Homo sapiens: one gene and its partners. The protein of the gene in region 1 interacts with the protein of each later gene in a biochemical or structural test. Each region holds a gene or a part of one and is shown on either strand. Other genes may lie near its edges.

The links.
Region 2: the proteins of RPSA (region 1) and PEA15 form a complex in vitro, tested with the Homo sapiens proteins (one study listed by BioGRID).
Region 3: the proteins of RPSA (region 1) and SLX9 are reported together in a solved structure, tested with the Homo sapiens proteins (one study listed by BioGRID).
Region 4: the proteins of RPSA (region 1) and RIOK1 are reported together in a solved structure, tested with the Homo sapiens proteins (one study listed by BioGRID).

What each region holds. Positions count from the first base shown.
Region 1 is NC_000003.12:39,409,696-39,413,054, reverse strand, and holds the end of RPSA (small ribosomal subunit protein uS2), read right to left. Parts: intron 2,302-3,359; coding exon 2,056-2,301; intron 2,002-2,055; exon of another isoform or gene 1,848-2,001; intron 1,407-1,847; coding exon 1,278-1,406; intron 1,160-1,277; coding exon 994-1,159; intron 782-993; coding exon 687-781; 3' UTR 513-686; downstream 1-512.
Region 2 is NC_000001.11:160,208,377-160,215,412, reverse strand, and holds the end of PEA15 (astrocytic phosphoprotein PEA-15), read right to left. Parts: exon of another isoform or gene 6,809-7,036; coding exon of another isoform or gene 6,748-6,808; intron 6,570-6,747; exon of another isoform or gene 6,544-6,569; intron 3,871-6,543; coding exon of another isoform or gene 3,869-3,870; coding exon 3,697-3,868; intron 2,304-3,696; coding exon 2,148-2,303; intron 1,992-2,147; coding exon 1,927-1,991; 3' UTR 41-1,926; downstream 1-40. UniProt on the Homo sapiens protein: Blocks Ras-mediated inhibition of integrin activation and modulates the ERK MAP kinase cascade. Inhibits RPS6KA3 activities by retaining it in the cytoplasm. Inhibits both TNFRSF6- and TNFRSF1A-mediated CASP8 activity and apoptosis.
Region 3 is NC_000021.9:44,935,932-44,943,040, reverse strand, and holds the start of SLX9 (ribosome biogenesis protein SLX9 homolog), read right to left. Parts: upstream 3,013-7,109; 5' UTR 2,984-3,012; coding exon 2,855-2,983; intron 2,740-2,854; exon of another isoform or gene 2,394-2,739; intron 1-2,393. UniProt on the Homo sapiens protein: May be involved in ribosome biogenesis.
Region 4 is NC_000006.12:7,399,804-7,406,839, forward strand, and holds part of RIOK1 (serine/threonine-protein kinase RIO1), read left to right. Parts: intron 1-1,154; coding exon 1,155-1,247; intron 1,248-2,799; coding exon 2,800-2,912; intron 2,913-3,013; coding exon 3,014-3,094; intron 3,095-4,137; coding exon 4,138-4,224; intron 4,225-4,614; coding exon 4,615-4,752; intron 4,753-5,114; coding exon 5,115-5,218; intron 5,219-5,445; coding exon 5,446-5,552; intron 5,553-7,036. UniProt on the Homo sapiens protein: Involved in the final steps of cytoplasmic maturation of the 40S ribosomal subunit. Involved in processing of 18S-E pre-rRNA to the mature 18S rRNA. Required for the recycling of NOB1 and PNO1 from the late 40S precursor.

The DNA of each region.
Region 1 (3,359 bases):
CCAGCTACGAAGGAGCCTGAGGCACAAGAATCGCTTGAACCCAGGAGGCAGAGGTTGCAGTGAACTGAGATCACGCCACTGTACTCCAGCCTGGGCAACAGGGAAAGACTGTCTCCCCAACCCCCTCCCCGGCAAAGACAAATATGGAGAACATCACATTTTTAAATACATACATACCTCTCCTCTCCCAGAACCTGTAGGCAAGCTGACAAGAGGGGCAATTAATGTCTCTCAATGTGGGGAAGGACCATCGCCTCTCCAGGGCTTCCAGGAATAGTTAACCTAAGTGACAGGAAGACTCTCAAAAATAAAAACCTAAGCTCTATAGAACTTACCTACGCAAATGGTAATAAAAGCAAGATCATCAGGGCCTCGGAAAAGTATTCCTGAGGTTACCAACTAAGTATGTGTAACCACTTACATCTATTTTCACAGCACACATGTTCTCCACACAGGAAGGAAGCTCAGGGAAATTCTGAAGTGAAAAGCAATATACACTATCTACAGTGGGCTTTAGAAGTACAACTCATGTCGAGACATGTATTTATTATTATGCTTTGATATGCAATCCCAGGTATTCTGATCTGGAGTAAAAAGCAAACTAAATGAAGACAACTTTTAGAAACTGATGTTTATTTTCCATCAACCATTTTTCCATGCTGCTTAAGAGCCTATGCAAGAACAGCTTAAGACCAGTCAGTGGTTGCTCCTACCCATTCAGTGGCCTGAGCAGTGGGAGCTGCAGACCAGTCTTCCGTGGCAGGCTGAGCGCTCCAGTCTTCTGTTAAGAGAATACCAAAAAAAGCCATCAGCTCTGTCCTCAATGTAGTATTTTTCCTTACCCCACTCCCAACAGCAGTCTATCAGATGCTGTAGCACACTGGAATGAAAACCTCTTAAAGCTAGTATAAAAGTCACAGAGATCATTAAAGTTAGAATAAAACTGAGAAGTTGCAAAATATCAGCTTGATTCACCTCTATCCTGATACATACCAGTAGGGAATTGCTGAATAGGCACAGAGGGCACCTGTACACCTTCAGACCAGTCTGCAACCTCAGGCTGAGTAGCAGTGAACTCAGGAGCGGGAGCAGTCCATTCACCCTGAAATTCCTCCTTGGTCACTGCCTTCTCAGCAGCAGCCTGCTCTTCTTTTTCAATCTGGGTTACAAAAAAAAAAGAGGAAAGACTTACAGGGACTGACAAGTTTTGCTTCCTAGAAGCACAGTCCAAGTCGTCCAATTTGCTTATGTAACCACAAGCCTTTGGAGAAGCTTACCTCTTCAGGATCTCTGTAGAAGTACAGATCAGGCATGACCTCCCATGGGTGTTCACGGGAAATGGTGCCACGCATGCGCAGAACTTCCCGAGCCAGCATCCACCACATCAAACCCACTGAGTGAGCTCCCTGCCAAGAGTGGCAGATTATTAAAAAGTGACACTTGGTCAAACCCAAACAGCAAGCACCTTCCTGGCTCTTACATCATCTAGGTACCAAAAGTACAGACATCTCTTAGTTGAAAAGCAATTGTAACAGGGAGCATTATAAATAGGGATTTTCAACCTTGTCTGCACACTGGAATCATAGGGATTGAAAAAAAAATGCCTGGACACTGGCATTTAAAAAAAATATCTGGGCAATTCTTATGCACAACTAGGGTTACAAATCAACCAATCTGAACCACACACAACCCACCTTTTTAGCATCTTATAGTAGAACCCATCAAGTTGGTGTGAAAACAAAGGCCAAGTGCCTGAGGCCTGAGCAAGAAACATGGACAAAGGCAGAAGAACACACTATTTTCCAAATGTTTTCATTTCTCCACAAAGCTGTCATGCAGTAATGTTATACTTGTAGCAAGAATTACTATCAAACTCCACTCATTGGGCCAGAGACCCTTGTGGTGTTAGCGAAAACTTGCCCCTCATGTAGCACACTACCTACACTTGCGAGTTCATCGGCCAGTCAGTAGCCTCAACTCCAAGCTCTAACAATGTGCACAGGAATGTTTTTTCTAGAGCACGCATTCACAAACTCTAGATCCTAAAATCATTACCTTGTTGTTGCATGGGATGGCAATGTCCACATAGCGCAGAGGAGAATCTGTGTTACACAGCGCAATGGTAGGTAGGTTAACATAAGATGCCTCCGTGAGAGGCTGGTGGTCAGCCCTGGGGTCAGTAACCACAAGAAGCCGTGGCTCCCGGAAGGCTGCCTGGATCTGGTTAGTGAAGGTTCCAGGAGTGAAGCGGCCAGCAATTGGAGTGGCTCCAGTGGCAGCAGCAAACTTCAGCACAGCCCTCTTTGAAGAATTTAAAAGTTAGTGGTACTCGATATTCCACAGCAACAATCCTGGCACCCAGTAAGCACTTCTGGGCACTGGCCAACTTAATCACTACTACTCCATGTAAAGCAGGCACATACCCAGCTTTCCTTAACCTCTCTTACTTCTCCAGAGATTTCCTGCATACATTAAAAAAGACAGGCTTGTTTTTCTACTATATATCCCGAGCACCTAGCAACACTACCTGGCCCAATCTAGATGCTCAGTATATTTTTCTCAAGCAAGCAAGAACTGTCACTCAGTTCATTCTACAGCAATAACTAACTGCCTTTTTTCTACTGTGTACCAAACTATGTGGTCCTAGTAACAAGTCAGTTTCAGGAATAACCCTCTGCAAAAACACACATGGGAACCCGTCCTGTCAACATTGAAATAAAGTCTTACTACATAATTTTTAAATCTGTCAAAATAGTTAAGATGAATAAAATCCCTGTTAGAACTCTTAGAATTCAAGAAATCTACTAGTTTTCTCAACAGAAAAATTATTAAAATAGAGCTGTGGCAAAAAAGATTCAAGTTTTACTAACTAGTCATTTCTTAAAAATACAAATTAAGGTATTTTTCATTCAAGTTGGCAGAGGTTCTCTTTGAGACAAGGCCTCACTCTGTCACTCAGGCTGGGATGCAGTGGACAGTCTTGGCTCCCTGCTGCCTCAACCTCCTGTGTTCTAGCAATCTTCCCACCTTAGCCTCAGCTGAGACTACAGGCACGCCAACACCACACCCAGCTCGTTTTTGTTAATTTTGGTAGAGACGGAGTTTTGCCACGTTGCCCACCCTGGTCTCGAACTTCTGGGCTCAAGCAAGCCACCAGCCTCAGCCTCACAAAGTACCCCATATTACAAAAGCATGAGCCACCCATGACTGGCTTTTTTAAGAAACAGGATCTCACTCTGTGCCCCAGGCTTGGAGTGCAGTGGCAAAATCATAACTTACTGCAGCCCCCAGCTCCTGGACTTGAGGGATCTCCTGGCTCAGACTCCCAATTAACGGGAACTATGGGTGCATGCCGTCAT
Region 2 (7,036 bases), on another chromosome or scaffold:
CAAAATCCTGGTCACTCACAGAAATTTTAAAATCAGTTAGTTGCAATACAATCAATCACCTTTATTCCGGGTTAGAACAAGGCCGTGCACACTGCAGACAGAAGAGCACAAGATAGGGGCAATCTCACAGCAATATAAGGAGTGGGTGGGCAGGTTAGTCTTTTTAGATTATTTTGCCTTACAGAGAAACTACTAGACTCTGCTGAAAAGAACCCTGTCTCTCTTCTCCCATTTCTTCCATAAGAAAGGCTCCTTATTCTCTCTCTCACTCTAATGTAACATATCCCAAATGGAAGGACAGTTCATGCTCATTCCCCCCACCCAATTCTACAAGTATCTCTCTCTTCTTAAGGGAGAAGCCAGACAGGGAAAGGGAGACTTGGGAAGGTCCTTTAAGGCAAAACTGTGGAGTCCTAGAGGTGTGTGTGTTAAGGCAGGTGTCTGCAGCAGTGGCCAGAGGGGCAGGGCACGCTAGGCTGGGCTAGGAGTTAAGAGTACTGTCTAACCAGTCTGGCTTCTTCCTTCTTCCAGCAGCCAGCCCTCCCCTCCCATTAAAGTTTTACTCCCACATCCTAAAAGCTCCTAACTTGAACTTTGTCTAAATAGTCTCTGAGACTGCATGTGAATTTAATGTTTTTTGAAAAAGCCTTCTTTTTTGTTTGGACTATGTAGCAATTTGATTCTGCCACTCCCTTCACTGTGGCATTCCCCTCCCACCCCCGCTCTGGCCTAGACAATAAGTTAATGCTAGACACCACAAAAAAGGGCAGACATGGCAGTGCAGTTTTAATATACATATATGTAGAATATATATGTACACACAGTTAGCACGGTCAGGGTGGGGAGGGGCATCTTGGGGTAGGCAGGAGGCTGGGGTCACTCACTGTACTGTAGTGATGTGGCTAGGAGGTGTTCACAAGCCCAGGGGGCCAGGATATCTAGTAAAGAAGGGTTTCCTAAGTAAGTCCCTTCCGGGATTGAATTGGGGTGGGGATCGGTGCAAAGGAAAACACTGTAGTTAACTTCTTTCTGGCTTGGGATGTTCTTCACCAAGGAGAGAGGGAAGGTTGCCTACAATAACCAAGTTGGGACCCTATAGATGGTGGTGTCAGGATTCGTGTTAAAACCTAAGGGTCTCATTCTTCAACCTCCCTAGGTTTAGAGTGCAACAGTCTGAGTAGGAACAACTGAGTGGAAGAGGGGGCTCCCCTCTCTCTGCCCTCATCCCCATCTCAGGCTCAGTGGTACATGTTCCCAGCACAGTCTCTCCAGAGTACAGGTGGGTGGGGGCATCTAACGCTGGCTGCTCCATGGGGTTTGATCTTAGGGACCAGGAAAGGATCCCTGGCTCATACCTATGCTAGGCCCATGAGAGACAAAAAGGGACCTGCTGGTACTCAGGAAACAGTCCAGCACAGGAGTACAAACATGGAACTCTGGCTTTTCTTTGCCCCTTCCAGGTGGGGGTTGAGTGGTCTCTTTGCCTTCCGTCCCCACTGCTTTTCCCTGGATCCACCTACCTCTCCCATACCTTACCCCTATGTCAGCTCCTCAATGTAGGAAAATGCAGGTCCTTTCTGCTTCCACACTTTAAAGATATGGGGGGAGTGGAGGAAAGGGAAGTAGGAGGAATGTGCTGATTTCTATTTGCATAGAAATAGCCCCCACCTCCTCCTAAAGTGGGGAAACTCAGCCCCCTCCCCTAGCCCCTGACCCCCATCCCCTTAAGAAGAGGAACTAGATGAGCTAGACATATAGACAAACAGCCAGAGCGTGCGCACACGCACACACACGCGCACAGTAAGGGGGTTAGGACCAGGTTAGTAAGTGGGTAGATGGTGGGTTGCCCTTGCCCCCTCTCCTGGAGGATGGGGGAAGGGAGTGGTCTGATGAAGGTCCAACCTTCCTCCTCTTCCTCCCCCTTGCTCAGGCCTTCTTCGGTGGGGGAGCCAATTTGATGATCTCTTCCTCAGAGGGCTGCCGGATAATGTCTGGGGGCAAAAAGGTATGTGTCCAGGGACAGCAGTGTGGGAGATGCCAGGCAGGCCCATTGGGCATCTGCCTCCACTCTCCCAAAACTCAAGTACTCCAAGGATAGTCAACGGGACGAGGCAGAGGTGCAGCTAGTTAAAGGAGTGGCCGCTTACCTTTGTACTTCTTGGCACTGGGGATACGGGTTAGCTTGGTGTCCAGCTCATCCTCCTCAGAGATCTTCAGCACACGGGTTCTGTAGTCAACCACCATAGTGAGTAGGTCAGGACGGCGGGAGATCTCAAAGATGTGCTCAATGTAGGAGAGGTTGTCTGGAGGAAGGCAGGAGATAGGGTCAGAGCTAGGCTGTAGAGGTCAGCTTCCCCTACTCCACCAGACTAGTGACCTGGAACCAAAGCTGAGTTGCTGACATTGGTTATGGGAGGGTACAACACTGGAGGAAGAGGGGCTACTAATCCAGGAGAAGAAAGCTAAGGTACCCAAACAACAATACAGAGGACTGTTCGCAGGAAGGGCAGATAGTTGGTCAGTGAAGTTTCTAGATTGTGGTTAGAATGAGGGGTTTAGCTTAGATACTAGCTCCCATATGTTGTGGGGAGGGGACAAAAGAAAAATCAACTTGACTTCCAGATACCCCACCCCCACCCCCATCCTTTTCCACTTTCCATCCAAGTAAGTATCAGAATTTGCTGACAGCACATGTAGGACCAGCAGGGTGGAATCTCTAGGCAACCCAGGAGAGATTCTGGGCCTGGTGAGAAAGGTTATTCTAAATGAGAGAAGGTATGGACACCACCAGAAGGACGATGTCCATGGCTTGGCCAATTCCAGGAGATTATAGATGCCCTTAGACCTTCTTCCCTGGCTCCTCCCCTCTGACTGTTGCCATACAGTCTAACTGTAACACGTCCTCCTTTATACGTTCTCCCTGCCAGCCACACAGCAGTCAGAATAGTATATCTGAAGGGCCCTGAGTTCACTCACCTCACCTATCCAATACCCAGGCTCTCTACAACACAGTCTTACCTTACCTTCCCAGCCATTTCTAAACACCCTACATCCTAGTCAAGCCAAGCAGGACTGATTGCATTTCCAAACACACTAGATACTCTGTGACAGTGTTCCTCTGCCTGGCATGCCCTCCTTTGGATCTTGCCTTAGAAATCCCACTCACCTTTCAGGGCCATCTTAAACACCAATTCTTCCCTAAAGCCTCCAGCTGTGAGGGATTACTCTAATCCATAGATCCCACTCCCCAAGCAGTAGTCTCTCAAAGTGGATAAGAAAATGATAGAACTTGTAGTTTTAAATTTTACCAGTTTTTAAAAAATGCTTAACAAAGATTAGTATTACTATTTACCAGTTAGATTACACTTCGAGTTCTCCCCTCATTCAGGTATTCTTCCATTTTTATTGTCTAGAATTCTTCCCAATTTTTGCCACTTAAAATTTTACTATTTTTAGATTGTTTTTATGTTCTGTTGTATATGTGATAATAGCACAGGAGTATCTGAATAACATTTTTTACCGATGAGGGGCACAGTGAAAAATGTCTAAGGCCCCCATACTCTTAGAGCACCTCTCTTCTGCCTTGCTATAGAGGGGTACACATTGTGGATGTAAAAGCTTTGAGCTCATCTCTATTTGCTGAATGAACTGAGCCTGAATGACTGATGACAGGACCCCTGTGCTCCCCTCCCCCACCTTTGTCCAGCTTGTTGTGGCTCTCCAGGAAGCTAAACCAGGCACTGCCAGTAGTGATCTCCTCACTCTTTTCGCTGGGGATGTCTTCCTTGCAGGCCGACTTGAGCTGTTCTAGATCTTCAAGGGTGATGTTGTTGGTCAGGTCTTGCAGGAGGGTCCCGTACTCAGCCATGACTGGGGTTGGGAGGCGACAAAGGGATAGGAGTTGAGCTTAAGGTATGGAGTCTGGTTTACTCACTGGCACTACCCTCCTACTCCCCACTCTGCCCTACCAGGCATGTGCCTGGAACATGGAGGCTGGAGGTGGCTAGGGCTGGAGGGAGAAAAGGAAGACCTAGGGGAGGCAGTCAGGGTAGACGGGAAGCTAGGAGCCAGGCTGGAGCCTAGAGTGACAAGTCATACCTCCTTCCCCCCACCATCTTTTTCTTCTGTTTTCCCCCTCTAACAGTAACCCTGGCAACAGTTCCCCTGACTGAGGAGGCGGTTACCATAGCAACCTGCTCCCGACTTTCTCACCCGCTCTCTCCAAGTCCCCCCTCAGAATCGCCCCACCCACTTCCAACCCCTCCCCATGTCAGGGAAAAAAAACTCCAAAACAACCAGGGCGAGGCTTGCTGTGGCAGTGAGAAGCTGAGAAAGAGCTGGAGGGTCTGGTAGGAACTCATGTGTTCTAGCTTCCCCATTCTGCCTCAAAGGCAAAGGGGTCCCTCACTTCAACTCCCCACCACCCCACTAATGACTCATTTTGGATAGATGCCTAGTTGCTTGGTCTGATGGTTCCTTGGCCCCACCATGCTAGCCTTGTATTCAGTCATTAGGGTTCGAGGTGGGGGAAGCAATGGACCACCCCCACCTTTGTGGAGCCCATTTTCTCCTTTGATGGTTACCAGGCCCCCACTCAGCTCTCTCTCCTACCCTTTGTGCTGTGCCTGCAGCCCCCGTGCCCAAGAATACCAAGCAACTGGCTCTGGCCCCCTGCCCAGTTCCCAGGCTGGCTGGGTGGTGGGGGGAGGGGACTTTAGATGCGGCTTTGGGAGAATGGCAAAAGGGGACTGCCCCCCCTTCTCGTATCGTATCAACATCCTACTGGCACTACCTTCAGCATGGTCTGATGAGATCAGCAAGGCCAGATCTCACCTAGGCTTTCACCCTATCCCTCTTTCATGATCCTTAGGTGAGAAGTAGAGAACATTCAAGGCCTTCCTTCCACTAAGATAGGAACTGTGGCTAAGACAGAAGAAAGAAGGTCAGATGTTTGAATGGACTTTCTGGATTTGATAAAATGTGACACTAGTGGTAAGCTCAAAAATGGAACTTATTTCCACAATGAGTATCTATTTCCTTTTAGTCAGAAAAGTAAAGCATGTTTTAAAAAGTAAATTGTATCATAAACACTCTGTATGCGACTAGACCAAGGGGTGGGCAAGCAGCAAGATGACCTTGTCCCTGACGGAGGCTGCCTGCAAATCACCCCAGCATTAGGCTGGGAATGTGGCAGATCAAAGGGGCTTGGTTGACACATTCACATTTTCCTTCTTGCTCTACTGCAGGGGAACTGAGATTGGCATGGTGGTCACAAAATAAGAGATACAGACCCAGAAGTCCCCATTCCCAGCCCCCTACCTGGACCAGAATAAACAAGCCTCCCTTGGTGGCAGGCACCATGACACAGGCAGACAATGAGCCAGACAGGAGGGCTACCATGACCCCCGCAAGAAACAGGCAGTCATAGGCATGCTCAGTTGCACACCCAGGTGCAACCAGACAGAAGGGCCCAGCAGTGGCCCTGCCAGGCCGGGCCAGGAACAATGCTCTCTGACTGTCAGCACCAGGAACTGTCTCTGCCTTGAAATCTAGGTCACAGCAGCAAGCTCTGGAGCCCAACCCCCCTCACTTCACTGATAATCCAAGGACAGAAGGAGGGGGGTACGGGTGAGGGGGATGATGGGGAGGGGACTAGAGATGGAGATAAGAATGAGTAGGGGGGCATGAGTACAACTGGAAGGGAAAGCGCAGCAGGAGACAAGAAGACCCTGCCCCAGTGGAGGAAACTCTGGGGCCAAGCCCTCAGCTGGAAAAGGGGGCAGGATTGGGGGTTATACTTCCCTGCTTTCATATGGAAGGAGAGTTTGTAAATATTACAGATCCTGCGGGAGGAAAGAGTGCATCTGTGTGTGTGTCTGTGTGTGTGTGTGTGTGTGTGTGTCGGGAGGAGTTCAGATTTAGGGCTTTGAATCTAAAACAGATCTACAGAGGAGGTAGGCGGGAAGAGATTAATGTGTGTAACACACTCACCCACAAAGACTTGGGGGCAGTGGGTAGGAGCTTTCTAAGAGAGTGAAAGATACAAGGAGGCCCCTAAGAGAGATGGGGGTAGGAATGTTAAAGTGGCAGAGGAGAAATGTGTGTGTGCTCGGATCTTATGGATGCTAATCCCCGGGTTGTGGGCACAGCTCTGGAGGAGGCAGTGGCTGGGTATCTGTGGGTGTGTTTGGATGTTCTGGTAATGGAGGTGTATGTGCCAGCACTGGATATATGGCTGTGGGTGCACTGGCTGTGAGTATCTGTCATGTGTGTGTTTGTATGTGTCTAAACCAGCCAAGAGCATGTGTAAGAAGGCATATAACCACAGGCTCACATCCAGAGGGGTGAGGGGAGCCTACAGAATGGAGAAAGAGAGCTGGAGTTGGGAGACAGAAAGAGACTAAGGCTGCAAATGAGGCATGGGGGGCGAGGGGGAGGAGAGCATACAGTCCACAACTATAGAAGGCTGTAGCCTCATCTCATCTGTTACTATAGCAACCTCAGTTCTGGGTGCCCCCCACCCCCAGTCGTTAGGATGACACCACTAGATGGGAGGAGTGTAGGGAATGGTGAGTAAGAAGGGACAGAAAGGATAGGAATAAGGCCCCCTGACGGTACAAGGAAAGGCAGCCCAGTTGCCTCCCTTCTTGGAGAGATCCATTTGCCTAGGCCTTAGTATGGCAGAAGAAGCAAAGGGAGTGTTGTTTAGGGGAACTGCTCTCAATTCTCACTGATCAACAGTTGTACCTGGGCTGGTCTGGCCTGGCCATGGTGGGGCTTGGCAGAGCTTGTTTCCTTCATCCTCCATGTCACTTTCCTCACCAGAGATTCAGATTTCCTTAGGGCTCGTGGAGAAATCTGCTCTCTGGGCTCTGAAAAATCCTCCTGATTTCTGGAGCAGTGCAGAGAGCTGCTCAGGGATCACCAGGCAGTCTGGGCGGAGGCCATTCTTGGGACAGGATACCAGGGCAGGAATCAGGAACCGGAGCCCCGGCTGCCAGGAAGTCAGTCCTCTTCCCTCCCAGCTTTCTGTGCT
Region 3 (7,109 bases), on another chromosome or scaffold:
AAGGGGGTCAGAATACGCCACCCCAAAACATGTCACTAATTATTTTGAGCTAAAGGCACTTAAAAATATAGCAGGTACCAAGAGGGCATATTAACCCCCTCCCTGTTTTTCCTGAAAGGAGATAAAACCCCCATATGGAAGATGCCCTCCTACACCAGAAGGTAAGTGACATTCTTATCATCAGGGATGGATCAGAGGAGCCAAGAGCACTCTGTACAGACACACCTGGTGAACACAACCCCTCCCCTCCTGCAGCCTCCCCATGTGGTTTAGTTTTCCACAACCACCTCCGTTCAACCTCTCACCCTCTCAAAGAAGCACAAAGTTCTCCCACTTCCTTGTCTTCATTTCCTTATAAGGCTCCCATGTCACATAAAACTTCAATGAATGGGTACGCTTTTCTCCTGTTAATCTGTTTTATGTAATTCTAAATCTCAGGCCCAACCTAAAAACCTTGAAGGTAGAGGTAAAACATGGCCTCCTTCACATTACAGAGGAGACAGGATGCAGATGAGGTAGAAGGCAGCCAGGGCACCAAGAGGTGCCAGGCTGGACTGCAACTCCCCAGGTGCTCTCACCCACAGCACCTGAGGGAGAAGTCCTTGGTCTCCCTCACCCACAGCACCTGAGGGAGAAGTCCTTGGTCTTGGAGGGTTACGTGGCAGAGACAGAAAAGTCGGTACATGGGAAAATATCAGACTCACGGGGGAACAGTGCTGGAGACCAGGGCAGCCTTCAGATGGGCAGGCAGGTGGCTGAGGCAGCACAGGTAGGCTGAGGCCTCACAGGCAAACAGGGACCAGGTGGGGACAAGGGGTGCAGCATGCAGCCTTCCAGATCATGAATGTATGTTGGTATACGGCAGACGACTGCTTTTCCCACTGTACCTGGGACATTCTCCATGGTAGCACTTTATATCTCATTAATGCATATTTTTGGAGCTTAATAAAAAAATGCTGGCACAGGTTTCAATGAGCCAAGACAACTAAAGGCACGCCCCTCTCCTGCTAGTAGAGAGAGATGTCACCTGAGAAGCTGAAGCTGCTCCTGCCCCATCTCTGGTGTCCTGACACGGAGCTCTTGCCCAGGAGCGGTAGGCTGCAAAAAGGAAGAACTCCATAGCTCTGCCAGAAGGGACTCGCCTTGTCTGCAGCTCGTGTGAGGGCTCTCACGCCTAAGGGTGTTGCTGACCAGGAAGGAGCTCTGGGTGGTGACAGATGCAGAGGGCAGGGTGCCCAAGGCTCCTGGGTAGACAGTAAGCCCCTCTGACCCAGGAACAACTCCCAGGAGGTCGCATCCCTGGCAGTCTGGAGGCTGTGCGCATGTTCAAGGACGCACCCTACCAGGAGTGAGCAGAGGGACTCTGTAAGCTACTAGTCCTTGGCTGTGCCTCTGAGGGCAGAAATGAAGGTCAAAAATGTGAACACGCTGAATCTGACAGCCACCTCCAAGCCAGAGGTATCCAGTGGTAAAAGGCAAAAACCCCCTGGCCAAGGAGGCTTTAAGAACAATTGCTGACCAGTGAGGAGCTTAAGCAGATCCAACTAGCCAGGCTAAAAGAGAAAAACAGGAAGAAAAAAAAAAAACCAAGGGGGCACATCAGAGGCTGCACACAGCCAGAAGGGGACAAGGAGAGAGGTCACATAGTTCAGTTCCAGATCAATAAACAAAGTAATCAAGCAGATACTAATCCCTGGTTGCTACAGGACTATCCAAAATGCCCAATTTTCCACAAAAAGTGATACATTCAAAGAAGGCCCACCTGCTCCTACCTGCCAGCATGAGCCAGGCAACAGAAACTGCTTTGAGCAGCCCACATGTAAAGAATTCAGAGTAGGCATTATAAATATTTCTAAGGACTAAAAGAGACCGTGTCTAAAGAACTAAACGAAGGTATAATGACATTCTCACATCAAACAGAAAACATCAGTAAAGAGTATTTTTTAAAATGAGGAGGAACAGGAGAAGAGAAAGAAAGTAAATAAATTCTGGAGTCAAAAAAAATGAAAATTTCACTGGAAAGGTTCAAAAGCACCTCTGGGCTGGCAGAACATCAGTAAACTTGAATTAAGATAGATTATGCCATCTGAAGAAAAGAGAAAAACTGAGTGAACAGCGCCTCAGAGCACTGTGGGACACCATTAAGCACGACGTACATATTTATAATGGAAGTATCCGAAAGAGAGGAGTGACAGAAAGGGGCAGAAAAAAATATTCAAGGAAATAATGGCTGAAGACTTGCCAATGTAACGAAAAACATTAACCTACACACGCAAGAAGCTCAGTGAACACGCAAAATAAATGCAGATACCTACACCAAGACACATCGGTCAAAATATTTAAGGCAAAAGCCAAAAAAAAAAAAAAATCCTGAAAGCAATAATTCCACTCACATGCAGTGTCTAGAATAAAGACAAAAGGTAGATTCGTGCTTGCTTAGGGCTGAGGGGGATGGAGAAACAGGCCAGCCGACTGCTAAAGGGAACGGGGTCTCTCTTCAGTTTGCTCTCCGTTCTTCTCTAACTCTGGGAACGTCCTTTCCTTTCCGGGGAGCTCAGTGCGATTCAGGAACCTCTGGGGTCCGCGTGGCAACCCTGGACCGCAGCGGGAGGTTCCTGGCTCTCTCCCCTCCCCGGGAGCGGCGCGAGTCCGTGTGCCCAGGACGGCAGCGCAGAGCGGAGCCTCGGAGTTTACGACGCTTCGCGAAGCAAGAAGGTCGCGTCTGTAGCGCAGCAAATGCCCGCAGAGCCCGAGGGAAGGCCGGGGTCGCGGAACCCTCCCGGAGGCGGCGCCCCGCAGCTCACCCGCCCTCGGACCCACGCGGCAGCCCCCGGCCAGCGCCTCCCCAGCTCACCTTCCCCGCGGCCGAGGCCGGCGGAGGGGTCGCCTCCGGGGCAGGGGGCGCGGGGCCGGGGGCGGCCTCCCCTTTCGGCCTCACGGCAGCCTGGTGCACTCGGGCGCGCAACCCCCTCACTTTCCCCATCTTCCCGGCGGAGCACGGCAAACGTGCGGAGCGCCTCCCGGAAGCTGGTCCTGCGTTCTCGCCGCCCGGCGGAAACAGGAGCCGCGGCTGCCGGGAGCCCCGCGGCCGCCGGAAGTACCCGGAAGCGGCTCGGGCGGGCGCAGGGTCGCGGGTGTAGGGTGGCGGCGCTCCGCCTTTCACCGACGCACCTGGGAGAAACAGACCGGAGGACGCGGGTGGCGCGGAGCACGAGAAACAACGAGTTTCTGTCTAGATCGTGGGGGACCCAAGCCCGGGGTTGCGTCCAAGGTCGGGGATGGAGAGGACGCGACCCCCGCGGCAGTCGAGATGGCCTTTTTAAAATTCTATATTTGAGAAGGAGTCTCGCGCTGTCGCCCAGGCTGGAGCGCAATGGCGCGAAATCGGCTCATTGCAGCCTCGACGTCCAGGACTCGAGCGATCCTCCCGCCTCAGCCTCTCGAGAAGGTGGGACCACCGGTGGGCACCGCCACGCCCGGCTAATTTTTATTAATGTTTTGCTAGAGCCGGGATCTTGCTGTGTTGTCTGGCTGGTCTTAAACTCCTGGGCTCCAGCGATCCTCCCTCCTCGGCCTCCCAAAGCGCTGGGATTACAGGCATGAGCCACACTGCGCCTGGCCAAGCTAGTGCATTTTAATTGACCTTCACTTCATGTCAATTTATTTTTTACACTATTCCATTTAGTCCTCAGAACAGTTCTTTAGAATTGGGTATTGCTCCGTTTACGTGGGAAACATAGCAGCGAGGTAACGGGCTGGGTCCCGTGCTGGGAACGGGAGCCCTGCTCATCTGACTGCTTGCACCCTGTGCTGTCTATGCTGGGCGTACTGGGGGGCGTTAGGGAAGAGACCACAGGTACGATGCAATGCCTGTCCTCAAGGAGCCCATTGTTCTCATGGGAACACAAAGCTGACACATCGAGAACAAACTATGGAACAGGCTGTGGCTGAGGGCCATGAAGGAAGGCTGCCAAGTCCGGGCCCAGCCAGGTAGCAGCCACACCTCTATCTACCCTGCTCCCCAACACTGGGCACCAGCACTCACCTGCCCAGGACCCACAGTGAAAACCCACCCACAAAAAATGCACTTTGGAGAAGAGTAGCAGGTCCCAGGCAGAGCCAGGGCCACCTCTCAGAAAGGACATCAAGTTTCTCGCCCAGCTGAGAGATGGACAGATGACCGCACAAGCCACTCACAGCCCAAGGTGATGGACTCTAGGATATATTCAAGGCTGAGCAACTGGCTTGAAGTCGTGTCTACTTACATATTCAAAGACCTAGTGAGCATTCACAAGTCATTCTTTTTACCCTCCAACTAGCCGTGTTCTCAACCAGTCTACCTAGGAATGCTGTTGGCTGTGAAAACTCCAGAGGCTGGTATCTTTAGAGTTCCTTCAGGGTGCATTCAGCATCTGAGCCTAGCGACTCTTGAGGTGAAAGTGCTCACGTTTTTTTTTTGGTGAGAGAGTCTCACTCTGTCGCCCAGGCTGGAGTGCAGTGGCGCAGTCTCAAAGTGCTCATCTTTATGTACTTTGGATGCCGGTGAATGCCTATTGTTTCAGCCAGCTGGATCACTTTACCTGTTAACCATTCCAATGTGAGTTTACTTCATGGAATTGTGCCTGTTTTTAAAGAACATATTCTGGCTGGGCGTGGTGGCCCACGCCTGTAATCCCAGCACTTTGGGAGGCTGAGGCAGGCGGATCACCTGAGGTCAGGAGTCTGAGACCAGCCTGACCAACGTGGAGAAACCCCATCTCCACTAAAAATACAAAATTAGCCAGGCGTGGTGGCGCATGCCTGTAATCCCAGCTACTCAGGAGGCTGAGGCAGGAGAATCGCTTGAACCGGGGAGGCAGAGGTTGCAATGACCCAAGATCACACCGTTGCACTCTGGCCTAGGCAACAAGAGCAAAACTCCGTCTCAAAAAAAAAAAATTTATATTCTTTAAAGATCAGCCTCCTCTTCCACTGCCAGCCCAGTGTTTGAGACTGCTATGGTTTGAATGTTGGTCCCCTCTGAAACCCATGTTGAAATGTAATTGCCATCATACTAGTATTAAGATGTGGCACCTTTAAGAGGTGATTAGGCCACAAGGACTCTACCGTCAGGAAAGGGTTAATGTTGTTATCATGGGAGTGGGTTTGTTATCAAAGTATTTTTCATAAAAGGACTAGTTTGCCCCCCTTTTGGCACACTCTTGCCCTCTCTTTGCTGTTCCACCATGGGATGACACAGCAAGAAGGCCCTTGCCAGTTGCTAGCTCTTCTGTCTTGGACTTCCCAGTCTCCAGAACCATGAGCCAGTAAATTTCAGTTCATTATATAAATTACCTAGTCTGTGGTATTCTGTTATAGCAGCACAAAACAGAGTAAGACAGTGACAAAGATACTCACCTGTACAAAGGAGGAAGCTTCAAAAGAAGCCATTCATGTATGGGGTGGGACTGCAGAAGGACCACAGTAGAGAATCCCTCACCAATAAGGAACTGTGTTAATCAGGTAACTAATTAATTAAAAAAAAATTAAGAGACAGGGTCTCACTCTGTTGCCCAAGTTGGAACAGTGGTGCAATCATAGCTCATTGTAATGGTGACCTCCTGGGCTCAAGTGATCCTCCCATCTTAGCCTCCTGAATAGCTGGGAACACAGGCATGTGCCACCACACCTGGCTAATTTTTTGGGTTTTTTTTTTTGCAGAGACACAATCTCCCTATGTTGCCCAGGCTGATCTTGAACTCGGCTCAAGCAGTCGTCCCACTTCAGCCTCCCAAAATGCTGAGATGACAGGCGTGAGCCACTGCCATGTGGCCCCAGATTTTCTTTTTTAAAAAGTCATATACGTACACGATACTGTAGGGGAGGCAAATATCCACCTCCCTCCTCTTAGGTTCCTGGCTGGGCCTGGGAACTAAGTTGAAATCAGATGGATTAACAGGAGAAATGTATACAAATTTAATGTCACTTTGATGTCACACAGGACCCTCCTAAGGAAGCAAAGACCCAAAGAAGTGACGAAACCTATGTGCTTTTGCAGGAGGCTGAACAAAGAGGCAGTTGTGGAAAAGTAAACCGTGTGGGGAGGCTTAAGAACGACAGGAATTACTTTAATTACTTTAATGTCTGTACAGAATTCTGTTGGCTATGACGTGCTTCCCTGTAGAGGAATCTTTCTTCGCCCGGTACAGGGAAGGCATCTTTCACCTGAGCGTTTTTATCTCCTGTCTTCAGGAAGAAAAGGAGAGATCCGATGATGCTCTTGCCTGTGCCATTTTTCAAGTGCCTTAGGTAGAAGTGATTCTTATGTCAAAGTGGCAGAGTGAGCCACCCTTCGATCCCAATGGAAACGTCCTAAAAGGTGTTGACAGTGAACAGTTCCCCTTCCTCCCCTGACGCCAGAGCCTAGTTCTCTGCCCACTTGAAACCATGATTATGGGTTTCCTATCGCAATTCTGTAGACTTTTATACAAAAAGAGTTTTATCTATGAGAAAATATTTTTCAGTGATCCTGTTCTTCACACCAATTAAACCTGACTGTTCCCTGCTCCGCACCTGGCTTCTCTCACGTCATAAAGATCTTACCATTTGCCCCTCATTCCTCCTGGCACTCCATAGCGGCTGCAGAGGACACTGGATGTGACATGGCTCCATCAGTTCCCACATGGCTTGTTCCCTCTCTCCTGCTGTAACTGACATGCTGGCATGCACATTGCCTTATACATACAAACAGAAGCTTTCCAAAGAGAAGTTTCAGGAAATTCACGTGGAATGTTTGGCAGTTGGTGTATATAAAAAGCTCAGGCCTGGCCGGGTGCAGTGGCTTACACCTGTAATCCCAGCACTTTGGGAGGCCGAGGCGGGCAGATCACAATGTCAGGAGATCAAGACTATCCTGGCTAACACGGTGAAACGCTGTCTCTACTAAAAATACAAAAAATTAGCTGGGCGTGGTGGCGGGCGCCTGTAGTCCCAGCTACTCAGGAGGCTGAGGCAGGAGAATGGCATGAACCGGGGAGGCGGAGCTTGCAGTGAGCCGAGATCGCACCACTGCACTCCAGCCTGGGCGATGGAGCGAGACTCTGTCTCAAAAAAAAAAAAATAAGTAAAAA
Region 4 (7,036 bases), on another chromosome or scaffold:
TTTCATTCTTCTCTAGTTGCAATGGTCGTGATTTGGTTTTTAGTCCTATAGTCTTCCCAGGTGGTTTTGTTTATATTAACCTTAGGTTTGTGGTGTGACCCCAGCCACTTCATTGAAGGTGGACCCTAAAGTATAGTTGAGTTTGGCTAGTTTATAATACCGTCTCACCCCATGGGGGCTAGAGGGCCTGCCTGAGCCACAAGGAGTTATTGGTTGGTATCCTTAGAAATTGCATACAAATATTTGGCTGCTTTAGTTTCAGAGATAAACAAGAACAGCCTTTAAATTCACTGCCTTCTGTTTGTTAGAGAAGACTTTGAAATCCATTTTACTCAAGATTGATTATTCTGGCTTGAAGGAAATGCTTACCGTGATTTACTAATCTATAATGGCAGGGGTCTGCAGACTCTTGAAAGGGCCAACTAATAAATATGTGTGAGCATTGTGGCTCACATATAGTTTCTGTTGATTTTTTTTCAAAGCAATCATTTAAAAGTGTAAAACCCATTCTTAACTTGCAAGCTAAGGAAAAACAAGCTGTGGTCTGATTTGGTCCATGGGCCGGAGAGTGCTGACCCCTGATTTACAGCTGCCTGTCCACGACGGTAGCCACTGGGCACTTGAGATGTGGCCAGTCTGAATTGAGATGTGCTTTAAATGCAAAAGACACCGGAGTTTGGAGACTTAGTGTCAAAAACAAGGATTATCTCACTGATGACTTTTTATATTGATACAGGTTGAAATGATAGCGTTTTAGATATTTTGAGTTAAATAAAATATATTAAGATAATTTCACCTGATTCTGTTTACTTTCAGTGTAGTGACTAGAACAATGTAATACTATTTATGTAGTTTGCATTATACTTCTATTAGCTAATAGCCTAGAGTTCTGTTTCTCTTGAACTTGGTTGCCTTTGATTTCCATGACTGGATGAACTTGCTAGTTGGTTTTGCCTTTGGTTCCTTTGGCCTTTACCTGACATTTTACTGATTAACAATTAGAGTGAATAAAAGCACCAAATAGTGACTCTCATTTAGTCAACCAGGATAGCGTCGTACAGTTAAGCTCTGCTGTTTATTGATTGTCACAGGTTTTAATGAGGAAAATTTGGTACCGTCTTTTGGAACTTTTTAATTTTTGCATTTCTTTTTAGGTGTTGGATCCCAGAACAAGAATGATTTTATTCAAGATGTTGACTAGAGGAATCATAACAGAGATAAATGGCTGCATTAGCACAGGAAAAGAAGTGAGCTCTTCTTTGGATGATTGGATATTTAATTTTCTTATTTCAGATACCAGATGAAACTGGCACTTAGAACTACATTATGCCTTTAAGAAGAAAGAAAAACAAAGCCATACACATTAATATTCATGGTTAGAGAGGAAGTTGTACATATAACTACGCCCTTTTCACTACCGCTGCTGCATTGGATCATTGAGTCTAACTAGTTGTGCCCAGTAGTGAGTGAGATGGTCAGATTATTACAGGCCTGAGTTCTAATAAAATAAATTACTCATGGGGCCAGGGGTTTATGGTTATGTTTCTATGAGTCAGCAAGTCTTTCTTATTTTTTTCTTTACCTACGGGTATACTGCCTTCTGTTTGTTAGAGAAGACTCTGAAATCCTTTTGACTCAAAATTGACTACTCCAGCTTGAAGGAAACTCTTACTGTGATTTACTCAGCTATAATGGCAGGGGTCTGCAGGCTCTTGAAAGGGCCAGCTAATAAATATATGTGAGTGTTGTGGCTCAATATAGTTTCTGTTTTTGTTTTTTTTTTAAAGCAATTATTTAAAAGTGTAAAACCCATTCTGCTGGAAGCAATTCTCAGTAAAATTCAACTTATAAATCACTGGATTTTTAAATTTTTTTTAAACAGAGTCTTTTTTTTTTTTTTTTTTTGAGACAGTCTCCCAGGCTAGAGTGTGGTGGCATGTTCTCAGCTCACTGCAACCTCTGCCTCTCGGGTACAAGCAATTTTCCTGCCTCACCCTCCCGAATAGCTGGGACTACAGGCGTGCACCACCACACTCAGCTAATTTTTGTATTTGTAGTAGAGGCAGGGTTTTGCCATGTTGACCAGGCTGGTCTCAAATTTTTGGCCTGAAGTGATTCACCCGCCTTGGCCTCCCAAAGTGCTGCTATTACAGGCATGAGCCTCCACGCCTTGCCTAAATCACTGGATTTAAGAATGTCTTTAATTATTTTGCATATACTTGAGATATAAAAAAGTTTGAAACCACTTCTCCCCTATATTTAAATTGGATTTTACTGTACAGTCTTGCATTGCTTAATGAAGGGAATACTTTCTGAGAAATGCATCATTAGGCAAATTTGTCATTATGCGAAGAACATTATAGAGCATACTCATACAAACCTAGATAGTATAGCCTACTGCACTCTCAGGCTATACGGTAGTTCCGAATCTGTACAACAGGTTTCTGTACTGAATACTGTAACAATTGTAAGACAATGGTAAATATTTATCTATCTAAACATAGAAAAAGTACAGTAAAAATACCTGTTATAGTCTTACGGAATCACCTCATATATGCGGTCTGTCACCTGTCAGTAACTAAAACGTTATGTGGCACGTGACTGTATTTGTATATTGGAGCTATGTTTACTGTCCTTTTGATGTAATGTTTTACATTTTAATTCACATATTCAAAAGACAGTGGTATTCCTTATGCATGTTATTTCAGTTCACTTGACTTTTGAGGTTAGAATCAAATAGATTGAAAAAGTGGTTATTTAACATAAACTTCATTTTCTTTTTTTTTTGACTTAATATAGGCTAATGTATACCATGCTAGCACAGCAAATGGAGAGAGCAGAGCAATCAAAATTTATAAAACTTCTATTTTGGTGTTCAAAGATCGGGATAAATATGTAAGTGGAGAATTCAGGTAAGTTCAGATTTTTCCCTCCAGTTGGTTTAATTTCTATTTCCTAAAACATTAAAATAATAATGGAATGATTGAAATAATAAACATTTTTCTTATTCAAGATTTCGTCATGGCTATTGTAAAGGAAACCCTAGGAAAATGGTGAAAACTTGGGCAGAAAAAGAAATGAGGAACTTAATCAGGTGACTGTCTGGGATGTGTGTATGTCTGTCCTATGCCCTGTACATGAACATCAGCCCTTCCTCCCAGCAGATCCCAGTGTGGTTCTGCCCAAATGTAGGGACTTGTTAGGGCCTTTATTTCTATTAGGTCTGCTGAAGTAAGCAGAAGAAACACATGTCTGGACAAATAGAGATTGTTTCCTATTCTGTTGTTTTCTATTCTGAGAATCCATTTCAAAAGAATACTGCCACAATTCATATTTATTCCACGAAGCTAGATCATTTGGAAGGCCTTGTAAGCCATTGAAAATGTTTAGAATTTATACTGAGGATAATAAGGAACTGCTAAAGGATTTTAATCAGGAAAGTGACACAATCAGATGGTTATAATGCTCTGTCATGTTTTCGTAGGTATTGGAGTTTTCGACTAATCTTGTTAGGTCGTGAACTCTTTGTTTATCATAGTTTCCTTTTCTTAGTCCAGTTTTGGACACTTTTTTTATATTCTTTGTTTGCACTAACACCTTTTTATCAGGTAAAGGCCTCATCTAGTTGAGATCAAGTTTCCTGAAAATTATGGAGTTTTAAAAAATGTCTTATAACTTTTTATATGGTGTACACAGGTGACACATTGGATAGTGTAGTATTGAGCAAGTACTACTCGTTTTGAAAGTCTTTTGTGTTCAACAAGCTATTAGGTGTGAGTCCAACTATTTTTATTAAGCATTTTTCAGGCTATTCAACACAAAAGATACTTGTGGACCTATCTCCTCTATTTCCTCCATTGTAAGATGCACATTTTTTTCAGTTTAACATCTCTGGAATTGCTTTGGGTATTACAGGTTATGGGATGTAATAGTTGAATTGCTAGTGTTTTATCATTCTCGGTGGTACATAATGGTGCCACTTAAAATAATCTTAGAGTTTATGAAATATTATAATACATTTGAGAGGCCTTGGTGCTATTTCTTAACAGCAATATTAATCTTGGGACCTGCAGTTGTAATTTATTTAGATGCCTTTTCAACTTTTCAGTTGTCCTTTTATTTGTTATAATATCACAGGCTAAACACAGCAGAGATACCATGTCCAGAACCAATAATGCTAAGAAGTCATGTTCTTGTCATGAGTTTCATCGGTAAAGATGACATGTAAGTACATGGAAGGGCTAATAATTGCATTCTCAGAACTGTATTTTTAAGTTCTTTGAGTTTATCCACTATATGAATATTTCCCATTTGAATAACTTATTAATCTTTCCCACTATATTAGTGAATAAGTGTTATCAATGTATTCTACCTTTTCAAGTCTGAAAATGCTTCAGAATGAGGAGCAAGTTAGTCCTGTGTTGGAGGGTGGTCTTATACAGTGTGTTGGGAAAGCATCTATTTGCCGGTACCTTCTTGGTTTATGTGCATTGAGACAGATTGTCCCACATACAGCTCACATGATGAGTTGTAGAAGAGAAGGGCATGTAACAGTATAGTAAGAAGCAAGAAAACTTGTTCTTGGTCATTTTATCTTAGTTCTTTTCATTCAAGGCCTGCACCACTCTTGAAAAATGTCCAGTTATCAGAATCCAAGGCTCGGGAGTTGTACCTGCAGGTCATTCAGTACATGAGAAGAATGTATCAGGATGCCAGACTTGTCCATGCAGATCTCAGTGAATTTAACATGCTGTGAGTGTATTTTGTCTCTTAAGAACTGCCTGTCAGTTGTTTCGTGTCCTTTAAAATGATAAACAAAATCCCAATCCAAGAAGTCACACTAACTTCTGAAGTTTTATTGTTGACTTCCAAATGGTATAAGATAGGATTCCTTTTTTCAGTGACCTTAGTCACCGAATTGACTGCTTGGATCATTAACAGTGAATGGATTTTGGAAATTTTCCCAGTTCCATCTGTTAGTCAAGATTGCCTCATCTTATCTACCTTGGTGATTTTGTGAGCTACTTCCCTTGCTTTTAAGAGTAGAATTTATTTTAAACGAAAAACATAGTAAAGTAATACCATCCCACAGCTTCTGTGTCTCTGGCCCATAGGTACCACGGTGGAGGCGTGTATATCATTGACGTGTCTCAGTCCGTGGAGCACGACCACCCACATGCCTTGGAGTTCTTGAGAAAGGATTGCGCCAACGTCAATGGTGAGTAGAAACGGCAATTTTCGAAACAGCTCATTGGTCTGTTTTGGTTTTGTACTCAGTTAAGCTGTTGGCGTAAAATTTTCTCACTAAATTGTTTGGTGCAGTGATGCTTAAACCATTTGCTGGGAGATGGTATGTAATTTTATCTCCTTGTTTCTCTATAAGGTAGTTGGAATAATAATATTTTTCCTCATAAAAGCTGTCATTAACGTTTTTCCTTCTGACAGATTTCTTTATGAGGCACAGTGTTGCTGTCATGACTGTGCGGGAGCTCTTTGAATTTGTCACAGATCCATCCATTACACATGAGAACATGGATGCTTATCTCTCAAAGGTAAGATGGGGAGAGGAAGGAGGAATAGGAAATAGCAGTACAGGTGCAGTATCTCTTATCTCAAGTGCTTGGGACCAGAAGTGTTTTGGATTTTGGATTTTTTCCAGTTTTGAAATATCTGCCTTGTACTTACCCTAGTTGAGCATCCGAAATATCAAAATCCAAAATCCTCACTGCTCCATTTCACATTTCATTTGAGCATAATGTTGGTGCTCAAAAAGTTTCGGATTTTGGAGTATTTCAGATTTTTGATTTTTAGATTTGGGATGCTAACCAGTAATTGCATTTGCTTGACACTTCTGAGGGACCCAGATTGCATAGTGTAGTTTATTCATTTTGACAGCTTCCTGAGACCTTTTCCTTCCTACTTAACAGATGAAGAATCAAAAATACAGCACAACAGCCAATGGTAAAGCCAGGGGTTTTTTTTTTTTCCTTTTTTTTTTTTTTTTCTTCTCCTGAGTCAACTTGATATCCAAGCTTTTTACTTCAATTATCTGGCAAGATTACATAGACTGTCAAAGTTTGTGAAAGTTTAGCAAGAAAACTGTCAGTTTTTTGGTCATTAATTCTTTTCCCTTGTTTCTCAGGGGCCTTTCTCTTTTTTTCTTTTCTTTCTTTTTCTTTTTTCTTTTCTTTCTTTCTTTTTTTTTCTTTTTTGAGACAGGATCCCACTCTGTCACGCAGGCTGGAACATAGTGGCGCACTCTTGGTTCACTGCAACCTCTGCCCCTCAGGGTCAAGTGATCCTCCCAGCTCAGTCTCCGAGTAGCTAGGACTACAGGCACACGCCACCACACCTAGCTAATTTTTATATTTTTTGTAGAGACAGGGTTTCATCATGTTGCCCAGGCTAGTCTTGAAATCTTGGCCTCAGGTGACCCACCTGCCTCAGCCTCCCAAAGTGCTGGGATTACAGGTGTGAGCCACGACGCCCGGCCTCAGAGGCCTTTCTGAATATAGAATTTTTTAGAATTCTGGTAAAAGACATAATATAAAATTTAATGCTTTAACCATTTGAATGTATGGTTCAGTGGCATTAAGTACATTCACATTGTGGTACAAACTATCACCACTGTCTATCTCCACACCTGTTACATCATCCCAAACTGATATTCTGTACCCATTAAGTAACAACTTCCCATCCCCTGGCAATCACCATTCTACTTTCTGTCTTTGTGAATTCACCTACTCTAGGTACCTCTTATAAGTGGAATCATATAGTATTTGTCTTTTTGTGTCTGGCTTATTTCACTTAGTATGATGTCTTCAAGATTCATCCATGTTATAGCATGTGACAGGATATCTTTTTCTTTTTTTGTTTGAGACAGGGTCTCACTCTGTCACCAGGCTAGAGTGCAGTGGCGTGATCTTGGCTCACTGCAACCTCTGCCTTCGGGTTCAAGCAATTCTACCACCCTGGCCTCCCTGAGTAGCTGGGACTACAGGTGCGAGCCACTACACCCGGCTAATTTGGGTATTTT